Linked DNA regions of Homo sapiens. The protein of the gene in region 6 purifies or fractionates together with the protein of the main gene of each other region. This does not show direct contact. Each region holds a gene or a part of one and is shown on either strand. Other genes may lie near its edges. The genes, in order: SEPHS1, CBFB, PAK1, MECR, THUMPD1, TAS2R41 and SYAP1.

The links.
Region 1: the proteins of TAS2R41 (region 6) and SEPHS1 purify together in Homo sapiens (affinity purification with mass spectrometry, with the first as the bait; one large-scale study listed by BioGRID). This does not show direct contact.
Region 2: the proteins of TAS2R41 (region 6) and CBFB purify together in Homo sapiens (affinity purification with mass spectrometry; 2 studies listed by BioGRID and IntAct, with this or other methods). This does not show direct contact.
Region 3: the proteins of TAS2R41 (region 6) and PAK1 purify together in Homo sapiens (affinity purification with mass spectrometry; 2 studies listed by BioGRID and IntAct, with this or other methods). This does not show direct contact.
Region 4: the proteins of TAS2R41 (region 6) and MECR purify together in Homo sapiens (affinity purification with mass spectrometry; one large-scale study listed by BioGRID and IntAct). This does not show direct contact.
Region 5: the proteins of TAS2R41 (region 6) and THUMPD1 purify together in Homo sapiens (affinity purification with mass spectrometry; 2 studies listed by BioGRID and IntAct, with this or other methods). This does not show direct contact.
Region 7: the proteins of TAS2R41 (region 6) and SYAP1 purify together in Homo sapiens (affinity purification with mass spectrometry; 2 studies listed by BioGRID and IntAct, with this or other methods). This does not show direct contact.

The regions. Positions count from the first base shown.
Region 1 is NC_000010.11:13,334,392-13,339,019, reverse strand, and holds part of SEPHS1 (selenide, water dikinase 1), read left to right. Parts: intron 1-211; coding exon 212-315; intron 316-2,669; coding exon 2,670-2,777; intron 2,778-4,628. UniProt on the Homo sapiens protein: Synthesizes selenophosphate from selenide and ATP.
Region 2 is NC_000016.10:67,035,211-67,039,838, reverse strand, and holds part of CBFB (core-binding factor subunit beta), read right to left. Parts: intron 3,201-4,628; coding exon 3,084-3,200; intron 1-3,083. UniProt on the Homo sapiens protein: Forms the heterodimeric complex core-binding factor (CBF) with RUNX family proteins (RUNX1, RUNX2, and RUNX3).
Region 3 is NC_000011.10:77,466,467-77,471,094, forward strand, and holds part of PAK1 (serine/threonine-protein kinase PAK 1), read right to left. Parts: intron 1-4,628. UniProt on the Homo sapiens protein: Protein kinase involved in intracellular signaling pathways downstream of integrins and receptor-type kinases that plays an important role in cytoskeleton dynamics, in cell adhesion, migration, proliferation, apoptosis, mitosis, and in vesicle-mediated transport processes.
Region 4 is NC_000001.11:29,227,349-29,232,604, reverse strand, and holds the start of MECR (enoyl-[acyl-carrier-protein] reductase, mitochondrial), read left to right. Parts: upstream 1-1,670; 5' UTR 1,671-1,698; coding exon 1,699-1,874; intron 1,875-5,256. UniProt on the Homo sapiens protein: Catalyzes the NADPH-dependent reduction of trans-2-enoyl thioesters in mitochondrial fatty acid synthesis (fatty acid synthesis type II).
Region 5 is NC_000016.10:20,732,826-20,736,781, reverse strand, and holds the end of THUMPD1 (THUMP domain-containing protein 1), read left to right. Parts: 3' UTR 1-3,118; downstream 3,119-3,956. UniProt on the Homo sapiens protein: Functions as a tRNA-binding adapter to mediate NAT10-dependent tRNA acetylation modifying cytidine to N4-acetylcytidine (ac4C).
Region 6 is NC_000007.14:143,476,063-143,479,768, reverse strand, and holds TAS2R41 (taste receptor type 2 member 41), read right to left. Parts: upstream 1,897-3,706; coding exon 973-1,896; downstream 1-972.
Region 7 is NC_000023.11:16,722,124-16,726,751, reverse strand, and holds part of SYAP1 (synapse-associated protein 1), read right to left. Parts: intron 1-4,628.

The DNA.
Region 1 (4,628 bases), on a different chromosome or scaffold from region 6:
AGTAACATTTTCATTGGTATTTTCCATCCTAAGCTGGATATGTTTCACGTTTATTTCAGTTACGCTTCTTGATAGGAAACACATGGCTTCATTGGCAGCCTGCAGTTTCCATAAGTATCTTATGAGCTCTTCCTGTTCAGAGCACTGGTGATATAAAATGAAATGGCTTTCCCGTTTTATTTTTGGATGCTAATGACTTCCATCTCCACAGGCATTGGAATGGATACTTGTGTCATTCCTTTGAGGCACGGTGGGCTTTCCTTGGTTCAAACCACAGATTACATTTACCCGATCGTAGACGACCCTTACATGATGGTAAGCGTGAGCCGATGTGTTTTTGTGACTGGAAGGGCTTATTTGTTTGGTTTGGGTTGTGGCTGGGGTTTTGTATGTATCTGTGGGGTTTTGGTTTTATTTCTGTTATATCCCGACTATACTGCCCCACCCTGCCCAGACTCCTGCAGTTGCTGAAGTCAGGCCTGTCCCCTGCCCACACTTGGCACTGGGCATAAAGCAATTAGGGAGGAAGCAGGGAAGGCCCTCTGCTGCTGTTGCAACTGAGTACATGCTGTGAGTAAGAACACCTCTTGTTTAGTAGCATGTCAATGGCCTGTTTTTGTCATTTTCTTCTTTCTTGCACCTTCTCTTCTTTGACATTGGTAACCTCCATCACCCCTGTGTTTTAGGCTGGAGATGTTACTGTCCTCTGTAATAGGACTGATCCTAAATGTTTCCTTCAAGAGATTAAGGAGCTAGTATCTCATCACAATTAGATGCCTCAAACATTAATTCGGATATCTGGTTAATTCACTCAACCCAGCCACTTGCACACCCACCACCGTGTGATGTGCCGCTGTACATAGTAGGTTTCTGACCACTGAGTTAAAGTTCCTGGCTACTGATGATACACTGCTGAGGTGTGTTCCCCAGTTGTTTACTGCGTAGTTGCAGCCAGCCACCCTTTGATCCACCCAACCTTTAACCCCAATTTGCTACCACCCAGGAGGAGCCAGTGGAGAGACTAGGAAAATCTGGTTTGCTATAAAATGCCAGGTGTTCTTCGTGTGTGGCAAGGACAGTGGGATCAGGCTGCACTGTAGGGACTTTATCATGAGGCAGCCACGTGGGGGGTGTTCACCCTCAGGTACCAGTGACAAATACCAGATTATTGGAAACCTATATTTCTTCCGCACATCTGTCCGTTTTCTCCTCTGGAGCAATACTCTTGAGACTGGGCAGGTAAGCCACAGCCCAGGTCCCACATGACCAGGTGGCAGGGATGGCTAAAACCACAGTCCATTGTTTTCCAGCATCTCCTAAAATGAGAGCACCCAGAACAGAAGGGGCGCTAAATCACCACCCCCCTAACTAGCGATTGGCTTGTGCGAGTTGTAGACCACCTGTTGGCCTTGTGGACTGGCTTGATGATACTGAAAGTGTGGCCACAGATGGTTGTTGAGCTGCATTGCTGACCTCCAGGAATGTATAAGAAAGCCTAAAGCAAGCAATTAAACAGCCACTGGAAGTGATAACACTTGGGAGTTTGATTATCCTTATGTCAGAAGGAAAATTTGTATTTTCTCTTTATTGTCTATAAAAGATAAAAATTTAGATAAGGGCAACTTAACTTTTAAAAATCTCCAGTGGCAATAAAAAAATCTTCATTACCACATTTCTGTTGAATTGTATTTTAAAGTTCCTAATAAAATGACATCATTTACTGGGAAATGCTTCTTTTTCTTTTGAAAACAATATGACTTCAGCCCTGGGTATTTTTTTATTTGTTTCTTAAGATGATTTTTCTGTTTATCTCATACATCCTTGAAAAGAAGCTACAAAAATTTTTTTTGTTTTTTTTTTGTTGTTGTTTATTGACAGTCTTGCTCTGTTGCCCAGGCTAGAGTGCAGTGGCACGATCTCAGCTTACTGCAACCTCCACCTCCCAGGTTCAAGCAATTCTCATGCCTCAGGCTCCCAAGTAGCTGAGACTACAGGTGTGCACCACCATGCCCAGCTAATTTTTATATTTTTAGTAGAAACAGCATTTTACCATGTTGGCCAGGCTGGTCTTTAACTCCTGGCCTCAAGTGATCCACCTGATTCGGCCTCTCAAATTGCTGGGATTACAGGCGTGAGCTATCACACCCAGCCTAAGCTGCAAACATTTCTTAATCCAAGTGCACAAAGACTATCTCCATCTCTATAACCACTAAAGCCAGCCATTTTTAGAATCTGTTTGGGATATGTGGCTGTTTCCAACTTTTCTTTAGGAGAGTTGTTTGCAGGCTTTTTCGCTCCATAGCTCTTCCCCCAAGACTGTCGGTTCTAAACTTGCTTCTCCTCCTCATTCGCTGCACATATACCCCTTCCCCTATCTAAATAAATTGCAGACTTCTAAAATTTAGAATGGAGAAAAACTGGTACATTCTTTGTCCTGCACAAGAAAGAGGTGGTAACAGGAATGTCTGAGAAAAAACGAATGGCCTAGTGACTCTGTGATGCAGGAAAGGTTGCCAGTCTGCAAATCATAGAAACTGAGGACCCCATCCTAGTAGCTGCTACTCCTGGAAAGTCTCCACGTTCTCTGTGGAGTCCACTCCATGGCTCACTCAGTTTCTGCAGATGGAAAGTCCCCGGTCGTCCTTTCTCATGTTTCCCTCTCTTCCCAGGGCAGGATAGCGTGTGCCAATGTCCTCAGTGACCTCTATGCAATGGGGGTCACGGAATGTGACAATATGCTGATGCTCCTTGGAGTCAGTAATAAAATGACCGACAGGGTAAGTAGGAGCTACCCGGCTGCTGCCTGGTCCGTGTTGTCCCGGTGGCATCTCTGGCCTTGGTTAGACTTGGTTTCCCATCTAGAAAGCGAGGAGCCCAGGCCATATGGCTCCCTGCACTCCTTCTGGCTCTCCACTTTTTGGCAGTTACCAGTAAATTAAAATGAGGAAGCCTGGCCTAGTCATCTCTGCACTTCTGCCACCTGCTCCCTTTCTCTCTTCCCAGTAGACTGAAACCAAGACTTTTTTTTTTTTTTTTTTTGAGACAGGAGTCTCACTCTGTCGCCCAGGCTGGAGTGTAGTGGCGCAATCTCAGTCCACTGCAACCTCCGCCTCCCGGGTTCAAACAATTCTCCTGCCTCAGCCTCCCAAGTAGCTGGGATTACAGGCACGTACCACCACACCTGGCTATTTTGTGTATTTTTATTAGAGACGGGGTTTTATCACGTTGGCCAGGCTGTTCCTGAACTCCTGACCTCAGGTAATCCACCTATCTCGGCATCCCAAAGTGCTGGGATTGCAGGCGTGAAACACCGTGCCCGGCCCAAGGCATTTGTGTATATTTTTTTTTGTTTTATTGAGACAGAGTCTCACTCTGTCACCCAGGCTAGAGTGTAGTGGCACAAGCTCAGCTCACTGCAACCTCCACCTCCCAGGTTCAAGCGATTCTCCTGCCTCAGCCTCCCAAGTAGCTGGGATTACAGGGGCACACCAGCACCCCCAGCTAATTTTTATATTTTCAGTAGAGATGGGGTTTCACCATGTTGGTCAGGCTGGTCTCGAACTCCTGAGCTCGTGATCCACCCACTTCGGCCTCCCAAAGTGCTGGGATTATAGGCATGAGCCACCGTGCCCGACCTGTGCATTTTTTAAAATAAAGTTTTGGCCATAGTAATGGTGCCTCAGTGTGAATCAGGCACAGCCTTACAGATGTGGGACACGTGGCACTTAGAGGGCACTCCCTCTGCTGTGGCTGGGGATGTCGTGGACGTAGATGGTGACGGGGGATAGGGCCACCAGGGGCTCACGCCTCTGTGTCATCGCCTAGCATTCTGTGCCCTTGCTGCCTGAACCTGTTCTTTGAACCAGAGATGAATTCCTATTTAGATAGACAGGTACTTGTTTTTGTCCCAAGAGCCCCCAACAGTTTGCCCTGCCTTAGAGAAACTTGAGTTTCCAGTAGGCTCTTTCCTGCCCTTGAACATGGGCTGTAGTCATCAGTGGTGCATGGTGGTCTTGGCGCAGGCTCTGTCAGTGTGGGTTACTCGTAGCCTGCAGCCAAGCCTTGGTAGGATGGATGCCTACTGCAGGGCAGGGGACCTGTGCTTAGGAAGCCAGTCTTGAGATTCTCAAGGAGCACTGGACAGCTGGCTTCCAGCAGTCATCAGACCTAGGGCTGGTCCTGTGCACTGAGTCCAGACAATGTTGGTGTCTGGGCTTTATTTACATTGTTGTCTAGAACATCTTCCAGCATTGGATAAAATGATGACAATGTGAAATATTTTCTAGCTTTTGTTTTTGTTTGTTTTTGAGACAAGATCTCCCTGTGTTGCCCAGGTTGGAGTGCAGTGGTGTGATGAGAGCTCACTGCAGCAGCCTCAGCCTCCCGGGCTCAAGACATCCTCCCACTTCAGCCTCCGGAATAGCTGGGACCACAGGCACATGCCACCACACCAAGCAATATTTTTTTTTTTTGTTTTTGAGATGAAGTCTCACTCTTGTGCCCAGGGCTGGAGTGCAGTGATGCGATCTTGGCTAACTACAACCTCTGCCTCCCAGGTTCAAGCGATTCTCCTGCCTCAGCCTCCCAAGTAGCTGGGATTACAGGCGCATGCTACCACACCCGGCTAA
Region 2 (4,628 bases), on a different chromosome or scaffold from region 6:
ATATTGTCTAGGGTCCCTTTCACACCACAACAGCAGAGTTACAGAGATGAGTAGTTGTGACAGAGACTGAAAGCCTGCAAAACTGAAAACATTTACATTTGTCCCTTCACAGAAAAAAAAACTTCTAAAACCAGTATTAATAAAATGTACATTTCCTGATAGCCTGCATAGTTCTATCACTCTTCCTAATAGAATTAAAAACATATCTTTTTAATACATTCATGTATTGCTTTAACAACGTTACAGCCTAAAATGGATCACATATATGACAGTGGTCTTGTAAGATTATAATGAATCTGAAAAATTCCTATTGCCTAGTGACATCATAGCCATTTTAACATTGCAGTGCAATTGCTTAATTTTTATAGATTTAGTGCGGCCTAAGCATACTATGTTTATATAATCTACAGAATCACATTCATTCACCACTTACTCAACTGACTGACCCAGAGCAACTTCCAGTCCTGCAAGCTCCATTCAAAGTAAGTGCCCTATACAGGTATACCATTTTTTAAATACTGTATTTTTACCATATCTTTTCTATGTTTAGATACATCAAGATACACAAATACTTACCAAATTGTGTTACAGTTGACTACAGTATTCAGTACGGTAACATGCTGTACAGTACAGGTTTGTAGCCTAGGAGCAACAGACTATACCAGATAGCCTAAGTGTGTAGTAGGCTATACCATCTAGATCTGTGTAAGTACACTCTATATATACACAATGATAAAAATCACCCAGCAACACATTTCCCAGAACATATCCCTACCATTAAGTGACACATGACTGTACTAGAATAAACCATCTCACATTTTTGTTATTTTTGGTCATATAACTAAAAACATCTCAATGGTTTAAGTCCAAGGATTATGTGGTCTTCACACTAGTGAAGCAGTATCATTAAATTAATTCAAGCAAACTTAATTTCTGGTAGAGTTAACAACCCATTTACTAGTTATTAAATACCGGAAGACTTCAGTAACACTGAGATGTTGCCCTTGAAGTCTTAAAATAGTTTTGGGCTAAAGCTGACAAAAAACAAATTTTTTTTTTTTTTGGTTTACGTCTTTAGTATCTGAGCTACCATGTTAAACAAACTTTAAGGAAGTATTCAAACAAGAAAAAAAATAATTTCTTCATTTAGTCACACATACACGCACCAGAAGCACAAAAAAACCAATAATCGTACAAGGACTTCTCAAATTCTTCCTTATATATTGTGTAAGAATTACCAAATAGTAAAATCTGGAACATTCACTTTTAATTTTCCAAGCAAACAAGCTAATACACAGGAAAGCAAACTGCTTGCTTAGTACTCATTTTTTTAAATCTTATAATCTGTTTTCCCTTTTCTAATCCAAAGATTGTTTTGTCACGCACAAAAGATCAAATCTAATTCTACAGAATTGGAGAAAACAAAAAATTCATTTTATATATACATATATATGTATATACATACACACATATACGTATATACACACACATATATACATATATACACACACATATACGTATATATACACATATATACGTGTATATATATATATACACACAAGATTAAATTAAATATTTCTCAAAGGAATATTTAGACATTTCTCACATTTTACATAAATGTGGCAGGTTATGCTATTCATGATGACACTTAGAAAATTAATTTAGTAAGTTGATAGAAACGGGTACAAAAACACACTGCAAAACAAACACACACAAAAAAAGTATGAAACTGGATCCAAAAGGGTGTTTTGAGTATAAAACTATATTTAAAAGAGGGTTTCTTCTTTAAAAATTTTATTCTAGAAGTCAACTCCTTGACTTCTCAATCAAGAATCAACCAATCCAAGATGCTATTCATTAAAATTTACCAGGCCAGGTGCAGTAGCTCACTCCTATAATCCCACCACTTTGGGAGGCAGAGGCAGGTGGATCACATGGTCAGGAGTTCAAGACCAGCCTGACCAATATGGGGAAACCCTGTCTCTACTAAAAATACAAAAAAATTAGCCAGGCGTGGTGGCGCACACCTGTAATCCCAGCTACTCAGGAGGCTGAGGCAGGAGAATAGCTTAAAACCCAGGAGGTGGAGGTTGCTGTGAGCCAAGATCACACCACTGCACTCCAGCCTGGGCAACAGAGGGAGACTCCATCTCAAAAAAAAAAAAAAAAAAATTACCAAAATCATAATACATTTAACGTAGACCTGAAATAAGGCTCTCAGCTTAAACATTTTACCTATATTTTTGTATCTTTAACCTAAACTTCTAACATCGAAACTGTAAGACATGTTCCCAGAAACTTTTTCTCAAAACAAAAAAAAAGTATTTCCAAGTTAAAGTTTTCACATTGTTTTTCTCAAATGTAAATTTGCTGTTAATGGAATTAGAAAGTTACCTATGAGCTATTTCTAAATACTATTAATTTTTAAACCTAGAGAGCTTTTTTCCGTTTTCCTCTTGTTTTATTTTTATAGCACTATACTTACATATATTTTTGTAAACAAAATATATCTCCTCAAACTTTTAAAGAAATTGTTATGTTACTTTCCTTAAGGGTTAGAATGTTCTATGACAAATATTATGTACATGAAATTAGGAATGGAGTGATACAAAAGTTTAACAGTGGTTTTAAAAAATTATATTGGCCGGGCACAGTGGCTCACGCCTGTAATCCCAACACTTTGGGAGGCAGAGGTGGGCGGATCACAAGGTCAGGAGTTCGAGACCAGCCTGGCCAACATGGTGAAACCCCATCTCCACTAAAAATACAAAAATTAGTCAGATGTGGTGGCGGGTACCTGTAATCCCAGCTACTCAGGAGGCTGAGGCAGGAGAATCGCTTGAAACTGGAAGGCGGAGATTGCAGTGAACCAACATCACGCCACTGCACTCCAGCCTGGGCAACAAGAGCGAAACGCCATTAAAAAAAAAAAATTATATTACATCCTTATAACATGGAATGAAAACAAATCTGAGCATATGCTGGTATAATCAGATCTGTGATCTTTATTAAAATGTAAATTACCAGATAATCTCTAACAAAACAACCCACAGTATTTTAAATTGCAAAGAAATGTTTCCTACCTTGCCTGCTTCTCTTTCTAAGTCGACATACTCTCGGCTAGGTGTTTGTCGCTGTTCTCCCTGCCAGCTGGCCGGAAAAAACTGGAGAGACAGATTGGTTCCTGTGGCCACAAAAGCCTTTTAGAAAAATCAATACAAACAGGATCAGGAGCAGGACATTACATAAATTATGCAAGCAGTCATTTATTTTTACATCAGTTTATGTCTTAAGCCAGGCAGCACAGAGAATACTTAAAAGTAAAAAAAAACATGCACTCATCATTTTTCTTAAGTATTAAGTTACAAACATCTGATTCCATTTTGAGGACATTTGCCATTGGCTGCTTAAGTATAAAATCAGACATGGAATCAATACTTTCTTTCAGGTCATTTTTTGCTGACGTTAGGATCTCACACTGCTAATGTCTAACCAGAAGCCACTATCCATCTCTGCATTTAAAAACTTCTATTTTTAAATGTAAAAATCACTCAAAATCTAAAGATTTTGAATTTTAAAGAATACCACAATTTAAAATTGTATAAATGAGACACTTTAATTTTCCTTGATTTCCCTTGCTGAAACACTGCATAGCAGGCAGTACATAAAAAATGCACTTGGAATTGTCTCTCCTCTGATAAACCATACATTGGCATGGGATGTGACAGTACTCTCTAAAACCCTAGATGATTTTTAAAAATATGTCTTTTCTCACATTTGACTTTAGGAGAACTTGGTCTGACTACAACAAAGAGAAAAGTATTCATCTAATAAATATTTATAGATTAGATTTATAAATATAAAAGATTTGGATGTTAGAGCTCAACAGATGCAACAATCTAAAACCACTTCAATAAAGTGTCATTTTATGTAGGCCTTGAGCAAGTTACCTCTATATTTCCCTCAGGCAAAAAACAAAGACATTACCCCTTTCCCAAAGGAAATTAAGAAAAAAAGAAGTAAAAGCATTTTTGAAAAAATACATTTTTCATCATCTAAATGTAAACTCTTCTTTGCTGAAACCAGAAAAAGTTTTTTGTTTGGTTTATTCTACTAATTAAGTTCTGAAGCATAATTGGTTTCCATGCATAGAGTCTTCATCTCAAATCAAGAGGTTCACATTTGGGGCAATTTGTTTAAAGCCATCAACCAAGTTAGCTATCCAATAGTTCCCCTGATGGTTAACAGCTTAGATTCTTTAGAGGTAAAAATTATACTTCCTATTTCTATTACTGGCACTGTCGGTACACTTGTCAACCTAAATGCTAAATCTCTAAACCTCTCTGATGGCATTTCCCTAATCAACTGGGGTACCATTTTCATGTGGTAAATGTTTTATATCCATAGAAACTGAACTAACATCAATATTACAACATCATTTTAAAAAATCTTTCAGGCCAGGAGCAGTGGTTCACACTCGTAATCCCAGCCCTTTGGGAGGCAAGGCAGGTAGACCATCTGAGGTCAGGAGTACAAGACCAGCCTGGCCAACATGGTGAAACCCTGTCTCTACTAAAAATACAAAAAATTAGCTGGGCATGGTGGCAGACGCCTGTAATCCCAGCTAC
Region 3 (4,628 bases), on a different chromosome or scaffold from region 6:
GTGGCACGCACCTGTGGTCCCAGCTACTTGGGAGGCTGAGGCAGGGGAATGGCGTGAACCCGGGAGGCAGAGCTTGCGGTGAGCCGACATCGCATCACTGCACTCCAGCCTGGGCGACAGAGCAAGACTCCATCTCAAAAAAAAAAAAAAGTCTTCAAATGACAGCTTGATGTCTCTGCTCCTAAATTTCCTCATCTGTAAAATGAGTTAGCCAACATCAGTCTAGCACATTACAGCTTCCAAATTGTTGTGCATATATCCACAGAGCTTACCTGATTCCCTACCACACCGCAAAAGTCTAAGACGGCTATGGTGTAATAGAAAAAGCATGATGAACTAAACAATCATAAGAACCTGGCTTCAGATCTTAGCTGTGCTGTATAGCCTCAGCAAGTCAATTAACCTCTTTGTGTTTTCTTCTATCAAATGAATATAAAACAACACCTGTCCTAGCTAACCCAGGGGATTGTCCAAAGAATAAAGTCAGATAATATCAGTAAAAGTATTTTGTACATTATACAAAAGGCCCTTCATCATCTGGGCCCTGCCTCCTCTCTGCTCTCACGCCTCCCCACTTTACACCCTATCTTCTAAGCATACTAAACTACACAGGGCTCCCCAAACAGGCTCTCAAATCTTCTGCTCACATATTGCTCTCTCTTTCAAGAGGGTCCATCATCTCCCCTTTCTTCTCACCCCTCCCTGACTGTGCTTCGTTAACCCCTGATCATTTTTCAGAACCCATCTTAGATGTCACCTCCTTTAAGAATGCTTGCCAGGCCACCCCCATTTCAAGTGCAGCAGATGCCCTTCCTCTGTGTTCACATGGCACTTGCACTTATCTCCATATTTTTGTCATTTTTTGTCTCAATGTAGTGTAATTGTCTATGCACATGTCTGTTTCTCCCGGAAACTATAAACCCAAGGGTAGAGGCTATGATTCATCTGTTTATTCAGAACCTATGACAATGCCTGATGCATAATATGTATTTAGCAAATGAATGAACTTTAAATGGCAATAAAATATTACTTTTCATATAATACTTACATAAGACATTTATGCAAAACATTGTTAATATAAGGCAGTGCTTCTCAACTTTGCATATCAGAATCACCTATAAACCTTTCAAAATAGAGATGCCAAGGCAACTCTTTACATCTTCACAAGTAATTCAAGTGCATAGCCGAAATTAAAACCACTGCTACACACAATCATAGTCATAAAATTACAAACTACTCTACCTAACATCTATATAGCTCAGTATCTTACAATTCACTTTTACATATATTATTAATCTTCACAAGAATTCTGTAAGTTAGGTATTATTTCTTTCAAATGAACAAATAGAGATTTAAATAAGTGTCCAAGTAGCTCTTTGTCTAACTTCAAATTTTGTGCTCTTCCTTAAACCCTCCCTTGGTAAGTGCAGTAATACACAAATCAAGGGTTCCACCAGTGAGGAAGACATCAATCTTAGCTTTGTGGGAATCCAGGAGGAAATAAGGAAAGCTGGACCTTAAAGATATAGGCAGGCAGATGAGGGTGGAAGCCATGCATATACTGTCATTGTCATTTGCCATCCCAAAAGATTCAAAAGGCAGATTCTATAAATTAGAAAATGCTCTTGCCAGCCTCAGTTAGTACTTAACAGTCTGAAAGGGAAAGGGATATTGGAGAAGGCTGGAAGTAGAAAAGTAATAAAAGAAAGCAGCCCATAAACAAGAATGGATTTCCCAATCCTGCATGCAAATTACCTAACTCTGACTCCAGGAACAAAAGCCAAGACATAATGGACTTAAGAATTAGATGAATTCTACAGTCAATCAATACCACGAAAACTCATGAGGGATGAATGAACCTCTGGTTCTTTCTAGACTTACTACTACACTATTCCTCAAGAAGGGATAATCCGGAGAAGCCTAGCATATACATGACTTTCCCCATCTCAAAAACTAAAAGAATGGGAGAGAAGAGGAAGATATTCATGAAAGAAAAGGCTTACAAAAAGGGTAGAAAAATGTAGCACATTAAGTTAATAAATTTACGATGGCACAGGGAAATATTCAGGCACAAGTGATTCCAAATACTGGATAAAGCCTGATCTGGCAGCTTCAGTAAAGAGGTATTATCTTCTAAGTCTGCAACATCATGACCATCTGACATAGAGTTTTATCAGCAATTATCCTTTCTAGTTCAAACTGTGGACTTCAGTCAGGGTTTTCTTAGGGAGAAGAAGCTAAAGAGATTAGGAACCAATTTAAAAGAATGTGTCTAGTGCCCCAAAATTTAGTTTGATAGAGTTTAAAAGGCAATATGTTATAGTGGCAAAGTAAAGTACTACACTTAGAATTTTAAAATGTGGTTTAAAATCAATATTCAGGCATTCATTAATGATGTGCCTCTGAGCAAGCCAAGACTTCTATTAATATGATCCTCAGCCTGCTAACTCGTAAAATGGGAATACCTATCTCATAGGGCTGTTACGAAGATTGAACAAAATAACATCCAGGAAAGATGTTATTTTTCCTGTATGAATGATAAATGTAAACGAATGTAAATCTGTCTTCACCAAGCCTTCTAATACACACACAAAAAAAACATACCAAATGGAAACTTTAACTCTCACTGCAATATATTTACTTGCAAAACATTCCTATATCCTCTGTGCAGAAACATTAAAAGCAGCCTCTGTACTGAAAATAGCACATAGCTGCTGGAGTCAGGTGCACATGGACTAGAATTGTTGGTCTGCCACTTACTTGCAGCAAAACCTTAAATAAGCTCCCTTTACTAGTATGACTCTCAGGTTTCCTCACCTATGATACAGAGATACCAGCAATCATCTCATAAGGTTATTCTGAGGGTTAAAAAGAACATGTTAAACATCTCATATAGGGCCTGGTACAGAACAGGTATTCAGTAACATAAGCCATTTTTAGTAAGCTTACCACCACCTAACAACTAACAAGCAAATTATACTTTTCAAAGATTCCTTTATAGTCATTATTTTAATTGCTTCATGATCCTGTAAACTAGTCGTAGCAACTATTACTATCCCCATTTTACAGTTGGGACAAAACACAGAGATAAAAATTACTTCTACAAGGTCATGCAGTAACATAGACACTAAAGAAGGTCTCCTAACTTTTCCAGGGTTTCATTTTCACCCACTACAAATTACAACATTACCCCTTAGAAATTAAAACATCTGTGAAGAGACTTTTTTTTTTTTTTTAATAATGGGCATAGAAAATGACCCAGAAGGAGCAAACACTGGTGTGGGAGAATGTTTTTAAATTTTTTATTTTCAAGTTTGAATATACTGACTATTAATTTTGAATCAATGCATTTTTCCTTTTATTTTTAGTTGATATGTAATAATTGTACATATTTATGATATTTTGAGATGTATATAATTCGTAATAATCAAATCAGGATAATTAGCATATTCATCACTCCAAACATTTATCATTTCTTTATCATAAACAGTCAAAAGCCTCGTTTTTAGATGCATATTGTTTATCGCTTTTCAAAAATAAACAATAAACTGTAGTGAGATGTATTCTTTTGATAACCTTAAACTTGTCTCTTTACTATGCCAAAAAGAAATATTTTTCTCCCACTTTCTGGTTATTATTTAGAAAAATAACATGGAGAGGGATCAGAAAATTCATTAAAACCAGCAACAACAGAATTAATGTCTCAAATTGGCAACTGCTGATTCCACCTTGATTTTTGTTTTAGTTTTCCCCAACAAAGCCCATGACCTCTTAAAATTTTTTAAAAGTCTGCCTGTCAAAATGATGCTTGTTTGACAAATTATTCCTAAACTGAGGGAAACAAATAGAAAGGCAGCTTTCTCCCCCCCTTTATGATCATATACCACCTTTTTTCATCCCTCTATTTCATCTCTTCATTTCAGCACTTATCATGTCATATTATCTCTAGCTCCTTAAAGACTTGGGCTGCACTCTTGTATATAGCTGAACATCCTGCCCAGCACAGGGTCTGGCACATGGTGGAGAAGGACTCATAATTTTATAGTAAACGGATGAATAATTGAAGCCACTCTCCCAGAAGGAAGCTAGGAAAGGAGAAAACTGGGCATGGTATCTTAGGGCTAATAAGAAAGTGAAAGAAACAAAGCATTTTAAGAGCTTGACAAGGAAGAGAAACCTTTGTGTGGAGTCAAACAGGCCCTATATAGCTTTAAGTATCACCAGAGAAAGACAAAAACCACAGGAGACCAGGAAGAGACAGTTTTAAGTTAAAAGACTCAAAAGTTAAGAGTGCTTATTTAGACTTGCAAAACCAACTTGCAAATTCAAAAGAAACAATCCTGGCTTGGAATATTGCAACAGCAGTTTTCAGGTGGTGGTTAAAACAAACAAACGAACAAAAGACTAGGCTAAAAATTCTTGCAGGCTTTGGTTGGAGACACATAAAGGGAAAAGCTCAACCTAAAATGAATCCCCCAAAAATGTTAGGATCCCCTTGGATTTGCACATTGGACCATGATTCCTATTCATTCTGAGAACGGTTCTTGAGTAAAACCCCAATGTCGCAGCTGGCAATACATAGAATTAAATCATCTTACATTATTCATTCAACAAATACTTGAGTGCCT
Region 4 (5,256 bases), on a different chromosome or scaffold from region 6:
ACAGAAGGTTACGTTGTACTTCCCAGTTCAAGTAAGCCTATGTGTCACTGGGGAAAAGGGTAAGCAGGACTGGTCATCGTGTGTGTGCTGGCACATAAATGTGGGGCCAAGCCTTTCCCCCACCATGGGACACCAACTTTCTCTAATAATAAAAACAAGTACAGACATTTAGTGAGCACATACTATAAGCCAGACCCTAGTCTGAGGGTTTTATGTGTGATATTTCTCATTTAATCACAATAACCCCCGATAATATTTATCAAATGCTTCCATGTGCCAAGCATTGTACTAAATGCTTCAAGTGGATAATATCTCACTTGACCCTCACAACAATCTTGAAACAGATAACTAGTATTCCTTCCATTTTAAGAGTAAGAAAGTGAAGACACAGAGAGGCCTGGTGACTTGTCCGAAATCAAATGGCTGGAAAATGGCAGAGCTAGGACATAAAGCCAGGTTTGTCCAAATCTAGCTCACAGTACTTTGCTGTGCTCTCTTCCTCAGAGGAAAGGCTTGGAGATGGCAAGCTTCAAGTCAATAAAATCCAGGAAAGGAACTCTTCCTTATCCTTCAAAGCCCTGGCTCAGTATCTTAAAACCTGTTTCCTGGGACACCTGCATCAGAATATTCTTGGGAGCTTGTAAGGATGTAGATTCCTGGAACCCCCATCCGCAAGATTCTAATTCAGTAGGTCTAAGATGGGACCTCGGATTATTTTTATGCACACAGAAGATTTTGAATCACAGGGCTGGCTCTAACAGCACCTCCTCCAAGAGCCCCCACCCCATCCCACCCCATCCCAGAGCACTTCTCTTCAGACTACAGCATTGCACTCTGGCACGAGCCACAGCTCGATCTGGGGTTTTAGTAATGTTCATGTCTTCCCTACACCAAAAATCAGACTAGATCCTTCATAGGGCTACACCTTTTTACAGGCATTTCCAGTGTTCCACTTAATCCCTTTCTACACTGTGAGCATTTTGAGAGAGGACCCTTCTCCTTGTGATTCCTGTCTTACATCTGAACAGAGTTTTTTACAATGCGTTCTCCCACCCACAATAGCATTCCTCTATTATTTCATCCAATCCTCACAACAATCCGGAAGGAGGCATATTATCCCCATTGTACCGATGAGAAAAATTCAGAGTTTCACCTGCCCAAGGTGGCCAAGCTAGGAAGTGGCAGGGCTAGGATTTGAACCTAAGTTTTCTAACTCCAAGCCCCATACTCCTGCCTCCACAGCAGCTTTCGTGTACTCTCCTCAGTGTAGGGAAGTAAGCTTTGCCTCCCTATGCCGTTACATGGTAGTGGTGATTAAATGAGATAATACCTTAAAGAGCCTGGCTCGGTGAGCACTCAATATATTATGTGAAGGGTAAACTGAGGCCAGGGAGAGTAAATATTTCCTCCAAATCAAACACCAAACTGCAGGCTGTAGACACGACTTTGGACTAGCCCCAGACTCTCCTTGTTGAGACAACAGCTTTGGCGGCCTCGCAAGCTCCGCACCCCCGGATCCCTCCGGGGCCCACACGCAGTCTAGCCAGGCGCCACCACTTGGGCAGCGAAGGAAGGAAACGCCCTTCAAAGGGACCAAGGGGGAGTGGTCACCCGGCGGGGCAGGGGCGGGGCGCAGGCGCGCGGTCGCTGGAAGATGACGTAGCCGGGGCGTCAGGCTCTGTGTTGGTTGGAGCGAGCATGTGGGTCTGCAGTACCCTGTGGCGGGTGCGAACCCCCGCCCGGCAGTGGCGGGGGCTGCTCCCAGCTTCTGGCTGTCACGGACCTGCCGCCTCCTCCTACTCCGCATCCGCCGAGCCTGCCCGGGTCCGGGCGCTTGTCTATGGGCACCACGGGGATCCAGCCAAGGTCGTCGAGTAAGAGACGGCGCCGAAGCCGGGGAAGGGGACTGGGGTTTCTGGAAGGCTTTAACACGAGCTGCGGACTGGGAAGAGAGGGACAGGGTCCGAGGAAGGGGGCAGAGAATAGCAAACCGAAGCCGAAGCCCAGGGCGTTTTTGGTAGGTCAGAAAGACCGTACTTGAAGGTAGCTGAAGACCCGAGAGGCAATTATCAGGGTATTAATGGCTGATGTTTATTGATCGAATATTGTGTCAGGCAATCCCTTGTTTAAATGGATGCTCTCATTTAATTGTCACAACAATGTTTTGGGGTAGTTATTGATTTATCCCCATTTTGCAGATGAAAACTGAGGCAGAAGAGGTAAAATCACTCGTCCAAGGTCACACAGCCAGTAAGTGACAGGGTCAGAATTCCAACCTATGTCTGACTGACCTGCGTGAGTTCTTACTATTATTATTATTATTTGGAAGAAGTTTTCAGAATACTTTTACATCCATTTGGATCTTCATGTGTCAGTAAAGAGTAGGTCATAGATCATTGTTTCCAGAGGGCAAGGGACTTGCCCAGAGTGATACCGCTAATAAGTGATTGGAACAGGAGACTGGAATCCATGGCTTCTGATTCCAAACTCATGTTTCTCTCCACTGCACCGTATATGCATCTTGGCTTGGTTAAAAAGAGCTGCTTTGGTGCCATACAGACCCAAGTATCTATATTTGGTCAAATACAGGCTCAACGTCTTAGTAGCTGTTTGGTCTTAGAGAAGTCATTCAACTTCTCGTTACTTTTATGACTTTGTCCTCCTCCTAAAATTCTGTTGGATCTTAATTCATGCTTTTTGCACGTGGTTGATAAAAATAGTATGTCAGTTGCCAACCATTGTAAATCTGCACATAAATAGCCATTCAGAAGGGCTATTGGGGCCACTGAAGTGGAGCTAAAGCAAAAGCACAGGTCTGGGAATCAAAATACTTGGGGTCAAATCCTTGTCCTAGCTTTGCATTTGGCAAGTTACTGAGGTTCTCTGAGCCTCGGTTTCATCATCTTAAAAAATGGAGACAGTACAGACAAAGTTCATAGTGGTAATCACCTAAGATCTATGTAGTGCTCTCCACCAAAAAACACCTGCATACTCTTGTGCAGTACCTTCTTTTTAACTCTTTGATTCCCAGCAAATAGTTTGATTATTTTCCAAAGGATGGGCAAATGTGGTATTACTTTAATGGTTAAAATTCAGGCTAGAGCTGGGCACGGTGGCTCACGCCTGTAATCCCAGCATTAGGGAGACTGAGGCGGGTGGATCACCTGAGGTCACGAGTTCTAGACCAGCCTGGCCAACGTGGCGAAACCCCATCTCTACTAAAAATACAAAAAAATTAGCCGGGCTTGGTGGTGGGCACCTGTAATCCCTGCTACTCAGGAGGCTGAGGCAGGAGAACCGCTTGAACCCAGGAGGCGGAGGTTGCAGTGAGTCGAGATTGCGCCACTGCACTCCAGCCTGGGCAACAGAGCGAGACTCTGTCTCAAAAAAAAAAAAAAATCAAGCTAGATGTTTTGACAGGTGGTGAGGATAAGCCTCAGATAAATTCAAGGTCATCCAATCAGCCTAGCCACATCCCGCATTATAGAAACGAAAAGAATGTCAAGAAGACACATCAGTCAGTAAACTCCAAATTGTATGTTGATCGTAGGTAATAAAGCATTGTGTCAGGGAAGACATCTCACTAAGGACTGCGTTGTAAGGAACTGGTACAGCTCTGATGAACACTCCTCCATTTCCAGGAATGTACCCCAAATGAGAACCATGTAGTGTCTCTCCCACGGACTTGTAGTTTGTGTCTGCAGCAGGACCTGCCACAAAACAGGTGCTCCTAAAATGTTAGTTCAATCTAAATCTAAATTTCCAAAAAAAGTGAACCTTTTATTAAGTTCTGCTGTGGTGATGAGGAAGGCCTGGGAAAGTTCAGCTGAATGCAGTTGCCTCCTAATTGATTCCCTCCTCTTGGAGAGCCAGAGAAGCTGGAACAGACCGGTCTGTTTGCAGATGCCACTTAGGAAAAAAAAAAGCTTCTATTATGTCCTTCTGTGGAACTTCAGTAATTTCCCTCTAGTTCAAAACATGATACTTCCAACCGGGCGCGATGGCTCATGCCTGTAATCCCTGCACTTTGGGAGGCTAACATGGGCAGATCATGGCGAAACCCTGTCTCTACTAAAAATACAAAAATTAGCTGGGCATGGGGGTGCAAGCCTGTAGTTCCAGCTACTCGGGAGGCTGAGGCAGGAGAATTGCCTGAACTGGGAGGCAGAGGTTGCAGTGAGCCGAGATCGCGCCATTGAACTTTAGCCTGGGTAACAGAGCAAGACTTCCTCTCAAAAAAAAAAAAAAAAAGATACTTCCACAAAGCATTATATTCAACTTTGGCTTCACAGCACAGTCACCATTTGTAGTGCTTTTATTTTTTGTATTTGCCCACATAAAATATCAGACAGCTTTTATTTTATATATATATTTATTTATTTATTTATTTATTTTGAGATGAGATCATGCCATGTTGCCCAGGCTGGTCTTGAACTCCTGGGCTCAAGGGATCCTCCCACCTCAGCCTCCTGAGTAGCAGGGATTGCAGGTGTGTACCACCACACCCAGCTTGACCTGTAGTGCTTTTAGAAACTACCGTATGTATTCCTAGGCCCCACTCCTGAGGTACTTAGTAGGTCTAGGATGGCTTGGAGCTTCTGTTTTTTTCAAAGCTCTCCAGGTGACTCTGCTGCCCAGGCCAGGCTTGAGAACCACTGCCTTGTGGATACAGATTGTCAGACAAGCAGTAATTCTCTCCGTGCTCCAGAAGGGCAACTTTACTTTCTGACCCAGATTCAGGCGGCTTTACTTGTTCTCGTATGGACTGAAGCCAGAGACTGGGATTCTCTTTGTAGTCATGTCTTACAAGGTTTAGGGTAACCACACTGTCACAGAAAGAATCAGGTGTCCTTTACACATCCTGGTAACTGGCTGTCTGGGTCAGGTTACACCAGGTAGGGGTCATGGGACTACCTAGAGTCTGAACAGAGCATTGTCAGAACTAGTGTGGTTTGTGATGCTTGCGCTGTGGGCCACACCTCTGCAAGCAGGAGGGAAGGAATGAGGAACAGCCTTCTCAGGTCTGAATCCTCAAAAGGAGGCCTCCAGGTTTCTCCTGTTCTCACGTCCCTGTTTTCATTCCTGTTGGCCTCCAAACATTGCAGCTGTTCTCTCCTAAGCCATTTTCCCCTGTTGCTTAGTTTCTTTCCCTTTCTTCCAAAATGGGATTCCCTAAATAAGTATTTGGGCCTTTTTTATTTAAAAGATTAAACTGTAGATCTAAGTAAAGTAAGACTGTGCAGAAGAATGACAAAC
Region 5 (3,956 bases), on a different chromosome or scaffold from region 6:
GTGTGCTGCATTATGCTGTTCTCACAGTAGTGAGCAATGATTGCGCAGCCCTGTTAACAGTTTTTTTAGGGATCTTTCAGCCTTTATGGTATTACGTAGAGGCAGACCCATGTGCTGCTGTTGCAAAGAGGGGAGGATAGGAGGGGGATGTTGGCCTCTCCCAGGCTCCTCTTCTGCAGTGCCAGCTGACTTAAGGGAGTGAACTACCTGTGAAGTAGAAAATCAGAGGGAAGTTTTCATTCTAAGGAAGGAGTTTTTACATGCCACAGCTCAGCTGTCTGCCTGCCACTTTGTTGTAAACATTGCAAAAATGTGGATCATGTAGGTTAGAAGTGAATTGTTTAGTGAAGTTTTTGTACTTTTGTGATTTTCTTGTTTATGTCTGTTTTTTTTTTTTTTTTTTAACATTTGTGTGTAATATAGCTGACAGTCCAGTGTCGCAATTTTGGAAGGCAAGATGTGAGAGAGACGAGAACCATTTTAGGCATAGAACTACAGACATTTCTGAAAAGGTTGGTGATGAAGAACTTCAGTCTTCTGAGTATACTTCAGTATACTAGTGCAACAAGGGACACAAAGAAATTCTGTCTTAATAAAGAAAGCTACTTCTCAAGGGTATTATGTGGACTCAGTCCAAGCTCTCCTGTCCCATTGTGCATTGTCTGTGACATGCAACTTACAAAACTAGCAATTGTAACAATAAATCACAGCCACTTGACAAGAAAGGATATTCATTATTTTCAAATGGCTTTTGGACTATCAAAAACAGTAAGGCTTTTGTTCAGAAATCACCTTTAGTCAAAAGGTTTAAGAAGCAAATTATTTAGTAGCAGAACTTATCTCAGGAAAGGAAAATATGCATGGTTGGTGAGAATCTAATAACATTAAAATGCTGGGGCAAGATGCAGTACAAAGTTGAAGAGACTTTATTCTCAATAAGTTGATTTACTGATGATATGTCATATGATGCAAAAAAGGTTTTGTGTCATTAACTGAAAAGTAGCAGCTTCTCTATCCAGGATGATGAGTCAACAGGTTTCACTAATATTTGTCATGCTGTAGCATTTGTAAGATTTGTAAATGATGAAATTCAAAGAAAACTTTTTCTATTGCTAGGAGCCTGCCAGAACAAAGGCCAATATATAATGTTGTGACATCATATCTGATAACCAGAGGTCTGGTATCTACACTCCTGGTGCCCCATCAGTGGTTGTCTCCATAAGTCATTTTGCGTTATTAAAAAAAAAAAAAGAAATCCTGATGTTGACATTATAGCACACTGCTTTCTCCACAGAGATGCTGATATCAAAAACTTGAAGATACAGTGAAGTTCTGAATAATGTTACAAAACTGGTTACCTGTATCAAAGACCCATTTATGCAAAAATGTTAAAAAAAAAAAAAAACACCCAAAACAAAAACCTGGACAGACAGCACATAAACCTCCTGCACCATACAGACATCCAGTGGCTTCTCAGAGGAAGCGTTCTCTACAGGATATTTGAATTGAAAGGTGAATTGCCAGAGTACTTACAATAAAACAGCCAGCTTTTGCTGAGTGCTTTGGAAATGAAAAATGACTACAGAAAGTAGCCTATTTTGCAGACGTTTTTCATCACATGAACAAATGGACAAGTCTCTGAAAGGTTCTGGGGAAAAAAATTTTTCTTAAAGCGACAAGACTCTTAGATCTAAAAGGAAACTGACTTGCCACCTTGCCAGAGGAATTCTTGAAATGTTTCTGCAGCCACTTGGCCTTGAAAATAAAGGGTGCAACTCTCAAATCTTGTTCTAACCCGGCTGGAGGAACCACAAGACCCAATGAAATAGCATTTTCTCTCCTTTTCCCAGCACTAGTATATAACCTATGAGGAACCCTTGTCTCTGAATCTGCTCAGCTTGAAATTTTGTCTCTGAAGGAAGAGAATGAACTCAGCCCTAGTCTGACAGTCCTAGATTTCTGTGAAATAAGAGTATTCTTCAACTTAGTGCTCACACTCACATACCATGAGGGTTCTCTGCAGGGGTTTAGGGGTTTCCTGAATTTGAAAGTTTTTTCAAGGCCTCTTTTTGGGTAAAACAATTGAAAAGGCAGACACCAACAAAGTCTGCAAAATTAACTGTCCAGATTAAGAATATTAAGGAGCTGTAAAATTAGCTTGTAGAAATGGACTTATCCTTAAGTTTTAAAAAGTTAGGAAATCCTAAAAATGTTAGGCTTCCTGCACAAGTGGCTATGTTCATTTAATGGCTAGTGAACATGGGAATGTATTTTTATCCTCCTAGCTGGTGGTTCTGTTTGGTAAACCAGACTAGAATGATTTGAGAGGGGCAAAGAGAATAGGCAGGACCTTCCTTCTATAGCTTTACATATTTAGAATGTTAATACTTAATGACATTGAAGTTACCTTGCAATGATTGATAAGAGGATTATTAATATCAGTTAGGGGAATAGGGAGGATAGGATTTTGGTGCCTTCTTCAGCAGACTTGCTCCAAGACAAAGATTCTATTTTGATAGTGCAAGACAAAAGGACTCGGAAGAAAATTGGCCATATGCCTACAGAGCATACAACTCTGTGGAACTAAATTGTTTTTACTTTGTGAAAGCTGCTATTTTACGGAAAGATTTTGATTATACAGTTTGTTTTTAAATTGTCTTTTATATTTATTTGTATTTGGTAAGAATCGGTTGTTACACAAGCTGTTCTTTCCCAGTTACAAAATCCTGTGTTCGGTTGTAACCTGAACTCATTAAAAGACTTGTTTTCAGGTTTATCAACTGTTTATTTTCACTGACATTTGAGCATGTTATTTTATAAATGACGGGATTCCAGGGTAGGAAGTGCTTTTTATTCCCCTTTTGTTTTTTCTTTTAAAAAATTACGTCAGTTAAAAAAATAAAAAAACTGCAGTCTTATGGTTTAGAAAACTTGTTTAGCTCCATAGAGGAAAGAATGTTAAACTTTGTATTTTAAAACATGATTCTCTGAGGTTAAACTTGGTTTTCAAATGTTATTTTTACTTGTATTTTGCTTTTGGTACGGCCAGAAATCGAGCTTGTTTTTTCATAGTTCCTGATATTTTCAGAAAAATCAAAATAAATTTGTTCCCTAAAAATTGGTGTTCTAATATTTTTTCTTTCTTTCTGACTCTTAGTAAATCTCTTGCTTTATAGTATATATATATCATAAAATATGTTTATATGTCAAATTATAAAATGCCATGGACATGAGCCTAAAAAACATTAAAAAATTATTACCCTTGAATAATTAATACTTCTAAATCCAAGTTTCAGATATTTTACAGTTAATTTGCTTCAAAATGAGCCATAGTAATACAGTACTTACTTTCATTAAATTCACTTACTGATTTTTGAATTATTTATACTCATTTTAACAGTATTTTAATATATTGAAGTTTGGTCTCATAAAGTTGTTAAGTAGAAGAAATTGTCTTGAACATTTAGGATATATCTTTATTTTGAATTAATCAGGCACAAGATAGATGAAATACAGATTCATTGTGCACTTTCTTTTTCTAAGTAATCATTTGACTCCTGCAATTTTAAACACTAGAAACCATCATTACCTTTGTCAGTTTGGTTATTGAAACAATTTTCATCCATATATTTTTAGACTTTTATTTACTTTTTAATTTTTTAGCTAAGTAGAAAACAAAAACTTAAACCAGGAAGGATCTTAAACATTTTAAGAGAGTAGTCACTGAATTATCAGGAACAAATCGAGAAAGCAATCATATTACTACTTAACCCTTCAGCTTTTTTATCAAGCTATGTTCGTCCCTATTCTTGGTCTCTTAAAACGTGTTTGATTCTCCCAATGATTGTCTTTGGGAGTTCTTGAACAAATTCCACCTAATTGACGGAAAAACGTTATGAGACATTTGATTCCGTTTTTCCAATTGTCAGTGCAATAGGAGAGAGCTTGCATGAAAC
Region 6 (3,706 bases):
ACCACAGGTGCACACCACCACACCTGGCTGATTTTTTTGAATTTTTAGTGGAGAGGAGGTCTCGCTATCTTGCCCAGGCTGCTCTTGAACTCCTGAGCTCGAGCAGTCTGCCTGACTCAGCTTCCCAAAGTGTTGGGATTACGGACGTCACCACTCCCAGTCCAGTGAAATTCCTGAGTCTGTTTTTCAGATTGAAAAGTACATGTTTATTCAATGCAGATGTGACTCTGTGACATATGCTTGAGGAAGACAAGAAAGTCACAATGTGTCTTTTTCTAAAGGAATGATAAACAAGAAAAAAGTCTGGCTACTACTCAGACTTCAGAGAAGAGAAAATTGAAGTCAGAAATGTTAATGAGAAAAGAAACTGGGTGGTGTAAAGAAACCTTCCAGTAAACTTAATAAAATTAAAACCAGATTATCCAAGTTTGTGTGGAGACAAAGTATCTTCATGCAGTAAAGGGCAATCAGAACTCACAGCCCAGGCCACTGCCTGCCACAACTGCCTGTCCCTTGGGGCTCTCGTAGTAACCATGACATTTGTCCTCAAGAAGGCTGTCGCTTCACTATCCACATCTCAGTTCAGCCATAGAGGCAAATATTTGCTCTTAACTTTCTGAAAGGCAGTGGAGATGCGATGGCACAGTTAATCAACACTTTTAATCGAAGCCTTCCAGATAACAAAGGGGTACAAACGTAAGGAGTAGCACGACATCATATTAACATATTCTGAACTTCTGGGCAATACTGGCTCTCTGGGATCCATGGGACTGCATCTTTATAACATTCCAAAGAAGGGAAGCATGCTCAGAGAGTTCCCAGATTTCCTTGTCTCCTCCGCTTCCCAGAGGAGGAGCCCCATAACAGTACCCAGTATTCATCTACCTATGAAAACACCTCCATGTCAGTGGGCCACAGCTCTGCCATCCTCACCTTTCTTTTCCGGGGGTCTAGATAAGGAAACCATGCCATCTAGGCCACCCAGAAGCCCCTTGCCAACAACAGGAGCTGCGAGAACACGCTTCGAAGCTTGAGGTTGCTGAAGATGAGGATGAAGGGATGGACAGATATGCACAGGTAGACTGCAATTTGCCATGGCCAGTAAAAGTCGTTCTGCATGGAGATAAATTTTGCGGCATCAATGATCAGGGACAGAAAGGACAGAGCATAAAGAATGAGGAAGGAGATGAGGGACTTCAGAGCTCTGGTGTGAGCCTGGGTGCTGGGGTCCTGCAGGCTGTGCCCGTTGTGCTGCATTCTCTGAGTATGCCTCCTCAGAGAATTAATTAACAGCATAATTGAGACCAGAAAAACAGAAAAAGGAATTGACCAGATGACCAGTTTCAGGGATGGGAAATAGTATGTTTCTATCCTTGTATTCCACTTGTAGGTCATGTTCCCAGAAAATTTTCTAATTAAAAATTCTTGATATACAGGGTAGTTCACCCAAAAAAACAGCAGGGTTATGATGAAGGAGATCAGGACAGAGCCCAACAGGAGCCAGGGCACCCACCCTGGGAACCTCCACTTCAGCCACAGGAAGGTGGAGTGTGTGATGTTAGCAATCTTCACACAGAACAGGACACTGAGCCAGCTGCAAAACCAGAAGGTGGCTGAGTTCAGGAAGTGCCAGTGTAGATGGAAGAACTGTCGGCCGAGACCCCCAGAGTACTCGACCTTCTGGGCAGAGTAGTAGAAGTTGTGCACCGTCCCAACCAACTGCAGGCAGAAGCGGGAGGCACCCAAGCTAATGAGGATCATATCCAAGGGCAGCAACCTGCCATATCGCAGCCACTCCCTGCCCAGCACCAGCACAATGAAGCCATTCGCTGCAATCCCCAGAAGACTCAGCAGGCTAAAGAGCAACACGAAGAAGGCCGTCAGTGCTGCTTGCATTCTGACCCCTCCTGCAGTCCCCACTTGAGTGCCTTGGTCCCTGGCCTCCTCCCTGCCCCTAGCCACAGTCCTGTTTTTAATCTTTCCTAGGAGTGCTAAAGAGTGGTCAGGCTCTGCATCTGAACCAGAGCTCACTTAGAGAGGAGGATGCTCAGGCTAAAGAGGAGAGGTGTGCTCTTGGCTCAGACAGGATGCAAATTTATCCTAGTGTCAGTTACCACTAGGCCTGCAAATTACCCTAATTTGCCTTGTCCAGTTTTCCTGCATGCTGCCATGGTTAGTATCAATGTCTATGATTTTTCTGGGTCTCTGTGACTGAGTTCCATCCTCAGGCCGTATGAACACTCCTCTTCCCATCAGAACATTCTTAAGACTTTAAATATAGAGACAAGTATAGGAGATACACAGGAAAAATAGTGACATCAAAGAATTCTGTCTCAGTACTTCCCTGTTACACATCCATGCTTACCTTACTGCCTTTGCCCACAAATCGCTTCAAAATCAAACACTTCGTCTACCTCTCCATCCAGATCTCTACTTAGATCCTCCATGAATCCTGAGATGTAAATGATAATGGTGTAAACGGGTTTTGTATTTCCAGTGAGAGAATTCATTATCATGTGGTTGAGGGGCCTTCCGAAGCAGGACTGAGAGCCCCTGTTTCTTCCTGGGTGTTGGTGGGAGACTGCTCTCTGGTCCTAGAGGCCTCTCACAGTCTCTGCCAGGTAAGCTGTTTCAGCATGGCCACTCACGTCAAGTCAGCAGTCTCTAAAGGGAGTCTGCTAACAAGATGGGGTCTTAAATAACATAACACAATCATTGGAGTGACAGCCTATCACCTTTGCCATAGTCTATTGGCTAGAAGCAAGTCACTGTCACCAACAACACTCAAAAGAAGGAGGTTACACAAAGGCCCAACACCAGGGTTGAGGGACAGGCAGGGCCACTTTACAGTCTGTCTGCCACCCTGAGATACCCGAGGCATATGTGAGTCCTGTCTAACACCAACATCAAAAAGAAGTCCCTATGAGACCATGTTGAAAGTAAAAATATTTTCTTTTAAAATATATCTATCACCTCACATAATTCCTGTTTTCAATTTCTTCATGTGTAGTGAGAACACTTAAGATCTACCCTCTCATGAAAGTTCAAGTATACAGTGCAGTATTGTTTACTATACTCATACTACCATACCTTAGGTTTCCAAAGCATGTTCACTTAGCATAACTGAAACTTCATACCCCTTGACCAATATCTCCCCATTTCCCCTTCCAGAACCCTGGCAACCACCAATCTACTCTCTACTTCTGTGGGTTTGTTTTTTCAGATTCCACATGTAAGTGAGATCGTACAATATATGTATTTCTGTCTCTGGAGCATTTCACATAGCATAATGTCCTCCAGTTCCATCTACGTTGTTGCAAATGGCAGAATCGCCTTTTCTAAGACTGAATCATATTCCATTGTGTATGCACACCACATTTTCTTTGTTCATTCATCTGTTAATGGGCTTTTAGATTGTTTCCATGTCTTGGCTATTGTGAATAATTTTCAATGAACATGGGAGTGCAGATATCTCTTCAAAATACTAGTTTCATTTCCTTTGCATATACACCTAAAAGTGGAATTACTGGATAAGGTAGGTCTGTTTTTAATTTTCTGAGAAATCTTTATAGTGTTTTCCATAATTTATATTCCTGTCAACAGACTGAAAGAGCTGCTTTTCTCTGTATTTTTGCCAACACTTGTTATCCTTCATCTTTTTGGTAACAGCCATTCTAACACATGTAAGATGATACCTCATTGTGGT
Region 7 (4,628 bases), on a different chromosome or scaffold from region 6:
TGCATTCAGTGCCCCATAATGATGAGCCCCTCTAAGCAAAAAGTAGCCAGAAAGATTATGATGCCCCATCTCCCTACGATTCTCATGATAAATAAATATACAAGCATGATAGAAATCATGCGCAAATTGACAGTGGGGATTGCGGCAGGCCAGGACTCACTAACATAGGCTTCCATCACAACTGTTTCAGTACTGACTGAGTGGTTAAGTTAAATATTAAAAGCCAGTGACCTTATACAAAGGCTGGGATGTAACAAAAGCCCAAGAGTTTTGCCTAGGACTTTCCTGAACCTTAAAGCACGATTAAGTAAGTTTTACTGGGGGGTCTGAAGAGACTCCCCAGGCCTCCACAAACAAGTTGATTGGGGGTCTGAAGGAACTCCCCAAACCTCCATGATTTAGCAGGAGACAAGATAAGGGTAATCACCTCAGCACCTGGACCCAGTTAGATTAAGTAAATTTACTGAGGCTCCAGAGGAAGGTCTTCAGGACTCAGACCTTAGTTATAGATTAAAAGAAGTTAATCACTTATGTCTTTAGATGAGTGCACACTTAACACGTAGACGTATAGCTTAGAAGGTATATAAGCTCTGGAAAACTTTCTAATTTTGCGTTGGTCTGGTGATAATTTCCAGGCCTTCTCCCTGGAGCCACTTACAGAAATAAAAACTCTCTTCCTTCCCAGTTGACCTGCATCTTGTTATTGGGCCACGAGAAATAGCAGCCTGACCCTCAGTTTGGTCCAGGAACAAAACCATGCTTTGCAGTCAGAGAAACAAATCTAAAGTTCCAAAAGAAGAGGGTTCTTTTGGAAATAAATTCCTTTTATCCCTTCCTCAGAAACATATTTTGAATTCAAACAATGATTTTTATTCCAAGGGAGAACTGTCATTTAAAAACTGGTATTTTAGCATAATCATTGCATTCCTTAGATTTTAATGACTCCATGGATGGAGTTTACTGAACACACTGAATATCTGAGAAAGCACAAGTTCTTGCCCTCCAGGAACGTCCATCTCTAAAGCAAAACAAATAAATAGAGAATCAAAGACAAAAAGAGGAACAAGATTATTCATTAAGCAGATGTGGCAGCATGGAGGGAGAACTGTCTCCAGAGAGTTATTAGAGTGGCCTGGGAGTGAGATGGAGAGCATGACAAGAGATTTTCAGGGAAGAAGTCCATAAAGACAAGAAGTGATTTATTAATTTTGCAAAGAGATCAGCTGACACCACGTTGAAGACAGTTTTTATTTTGATTTTTATTTTTTATAGAGATGGAGTCTCACTATGTTGTCCAGGCTGGTCTCAAACTCCTGGGCTCAAGCAACCCACCCGCCTTGGCCTCCCAAAGTTTTGGGATGACAACTGTAAGCCACCGCACCTGGCCAAAGACAGTTTTTATGAACTGTCTAGGAAAAAACTGAAACTAAGATAGGAGTTAACAGGAAGTAACAGGAGTACAATGTCCACTTCAGTCCATAAAGTGAGGGTCTGAAACGAAGTAGCGCCAAAGAAAAGGAAGTCAAATTCAAATGTATCTGAATACGACTTAGCGACCTGCTGGAAGGTGGGGGCCGACAGCTAACATTTAAAGTAGTTATTTTACCTTCATTTTAATTATGCCATGTTTTATTCTCATAACCTTCCTGGGACAAGGAGAAGGAATAATCTGCCCAGTTCAAAAAAAGGGAAGCTGAGGCTCACAGAGGAAAAATGATTTGTCCTATGTGATAGGGGCAGATCTTGCTGGCTGCCCAGCCAGTAGCCCATCTCTTCTGCCTTGTTAAAACCACCCCAATTTTGATGCGTGCCCATGTGGCCAGCCCCAGAGAATGAATCTTGACAAGTCCACACCAAAGAAGGTAATGGCACTACCTCTGTCAGGATCTCTGCCACATACTTGCTGAGAGTCCCGTGAAGCTTAGAAAAGCCATGTGACAGCTCCACCCCAAGAAATTTAAGGGGACACCTGCAAGTCGGCATCCAGAAACATTTTCTTTCTTAATAAAAAGGGAGCTATGGGGAGAGTCCTCGTCCTCCCTTTCTACTGCAGTTGCTGTCTTGTGAGCCTGAAGTGATCAGCCTGAGGATGGAAACCAACTCACTATGGATGAAGGAGAGGAAGCGTGGAAGAGATTGGTTCCCTGATCATATCGTTGAGCCATGGAACTGACCCTGGGACCTCCCTCCCATCCCCACATTTCTTGGAGACTCTGCAGAAAAGCATTAACATGGCAGGCCTGAGACTGCTGTCCTTGGAAAGGCTTGCTTTCAAGGTTGGCCACTGGCTGGGTGTCCGGGAACTTAGATTTCGGGAGGGCTCCCACCATTTCTTAAACTGCTAAGAATGCCTCATTGTGGTTTATGCTGAACTCCCGCTTTCCTTGTGGGGTCTGGAATTTGGATATGTGGTAGGCAGAGGATACCTATACGACCAGTCCCCAGTAAAAGTCCTGGGCACTGAGTCTCTAATGAGCTTCCCTGGAAGACAGCATCTCACACGTGTTGTCACAACTCCTTGCTAGAGGAATTAAGCACGTCCTGTGTGACTCTACTGTGCCTGCTTACCCCTGGACTTCCACCCCATGTGCCTTTTTCCTTTCCTGATTTTATTCTTGTACTCTTTCATTGCAATACATCACGGCCATGAATACAACTATATGCTGAGTCCCATAAGTCTTCCTAGCCAATCATCAAACCTGGGGATGGTTCTTGGGGACTCCCTGACACAAAAATAAAGTTTCTTTCATTAAGCCTCTGATCACTGGACTTTCTGTAATTTGCAAATGATATAACAATAAAGACAGTAAGTAGTGTAGGGAACTCAAACACAGGCTATCTGCCTCTAAATCCCAAGCTCATGCTCCAATCCCACGCTGCCTCAGGTCAGTTGAGCAAGTTGACAAGGGCTTGAAGAACTGAAAGGAATGGTAAGAATAAAGTAAAGTAGGAAGAGCTTCAAAGGTCAGAAAAAACATAAATTTGTTAAAGTAAACACAGAGCAAGGTAGAGTTTAAGGCCTGCCGCAAGAATAGGAAGAGAATAAGCATACAGTGGCAAAGTCTTAGGAAATTAATATTCTTATAAAGTAGTTGGTTAATTTTTCAAAGATACTATATTTCATACAATTTTAGAATTTCAGCATCTTAGTGTGGGAATGGACCTTCCTATCCAGGTAGCCCCACTTCCAGGGGTAGGGAGCACAGGACTTAGAAGGGCAGCCAGTAATTACTGTTACTCAACTCTAATCAGAAAATTCTTCTCACTTCTCTAGTCATTTCTACCCCACAGCCTCAGGTCTATCCTCATAAGGAACATCTACGACTTCTTTTCTGCAAAAGACCTTTCAGATTTTCTGCAATGTCCCTAAGTTTCTTCTTCAAATCGAGATCCCCAATTTTAAAAAGTATTGTTCATAAGCCCTAGGATCCAAGCTATTGACTGTGCATTGTAAACCTGGGTGTGTTATCAGAACTCAATTAGATATTTTACTCCCACATCAAAGCAGGTACATAGTCACCTCTGTACACTCTAACTTTAGGAGTCCTCTTAGTTTGCAAGTTAGGCAGCTGGAACTTGAAATATACTTTCCCTACAGAAGAAAAGGAGGACAGTCTAACACAGGTCCACTGCAATACTAATAGCACTTTTCAAAGGAGGAGGAGGTGGCCCTTTCCCCATTCCTAGGCATGGAATAGTTTTAGGGGCGGTTTAGAAAAAGCTAAAGATCACAAAGCTCATCTTTGGCCATCCTCCCACTGATGTAAACTGTGTGACTGATTCAGATATTTAACATTCTCAGAAGTACAGATTTTCTTTTTATTTATTTATTTTTTTCAGAAAGAGTAGAGGCAAAGCTTTAATTTGGTTGACTTTAACAAAAACCAACTAACCAACTTAACGGCATGGGGCCTTGAGGGAGGTAGGGAGGAGCTCTTAAGTGAGTTCTCCTATAAATTGTTCCTTCCTTTGGAGACAGTGACAATCGGAGGTTGTAAATTTATCAGGAGGGAGGGCCAAGAATCAGGAGACCAGGAGGTTTGGTTTTGAGTGAGGGAGTGGAATGCAGGCCTGGGTGTCCACCACTAACTGGTGAGTTGCCTGAATGTATAAATAGGTCACCAGGAACCAGGAAGTATTTAGTGTCCAGTCTTGAAGGTAGGCACTCAACAAATATATGCAGAACAAATGGGGCTCCCAGGAGATTTTTTTTTTTTTTTTTGTGAGATGCAGTCTCACTTTGTCACCTACACTGGAGTGCAGTGGCGCGATCTCGGCTCACTGCAACCTCCGCCTCCCGGGTTCAAGCGATTCTCCCGCCTCAGCCTCTTGAGTAGCTGGGATTATAGGCGCGCACCACCACGCCCAGCTAATTTTTGTATTTTTAGTAGGGACAGGGTTTCACCACGTTGGTCAGGCTGGTCTCGATCTCCTGACCTCGTGATCTGCCTGCCTTGGCCTCCCAAAGCTGCTGGGATTATAGGCGTGAGCCACCGCACCCGGCTGATATTTTATGTAGATTTCAAAAGACTTAAGAAATGAATCTACTCTGGGAGTCAGGCTCACAGATGTTTAATTCCAGTTTTCAAAACATAAATGGGTCTTCTTAAAGACAATATACTTCTTAG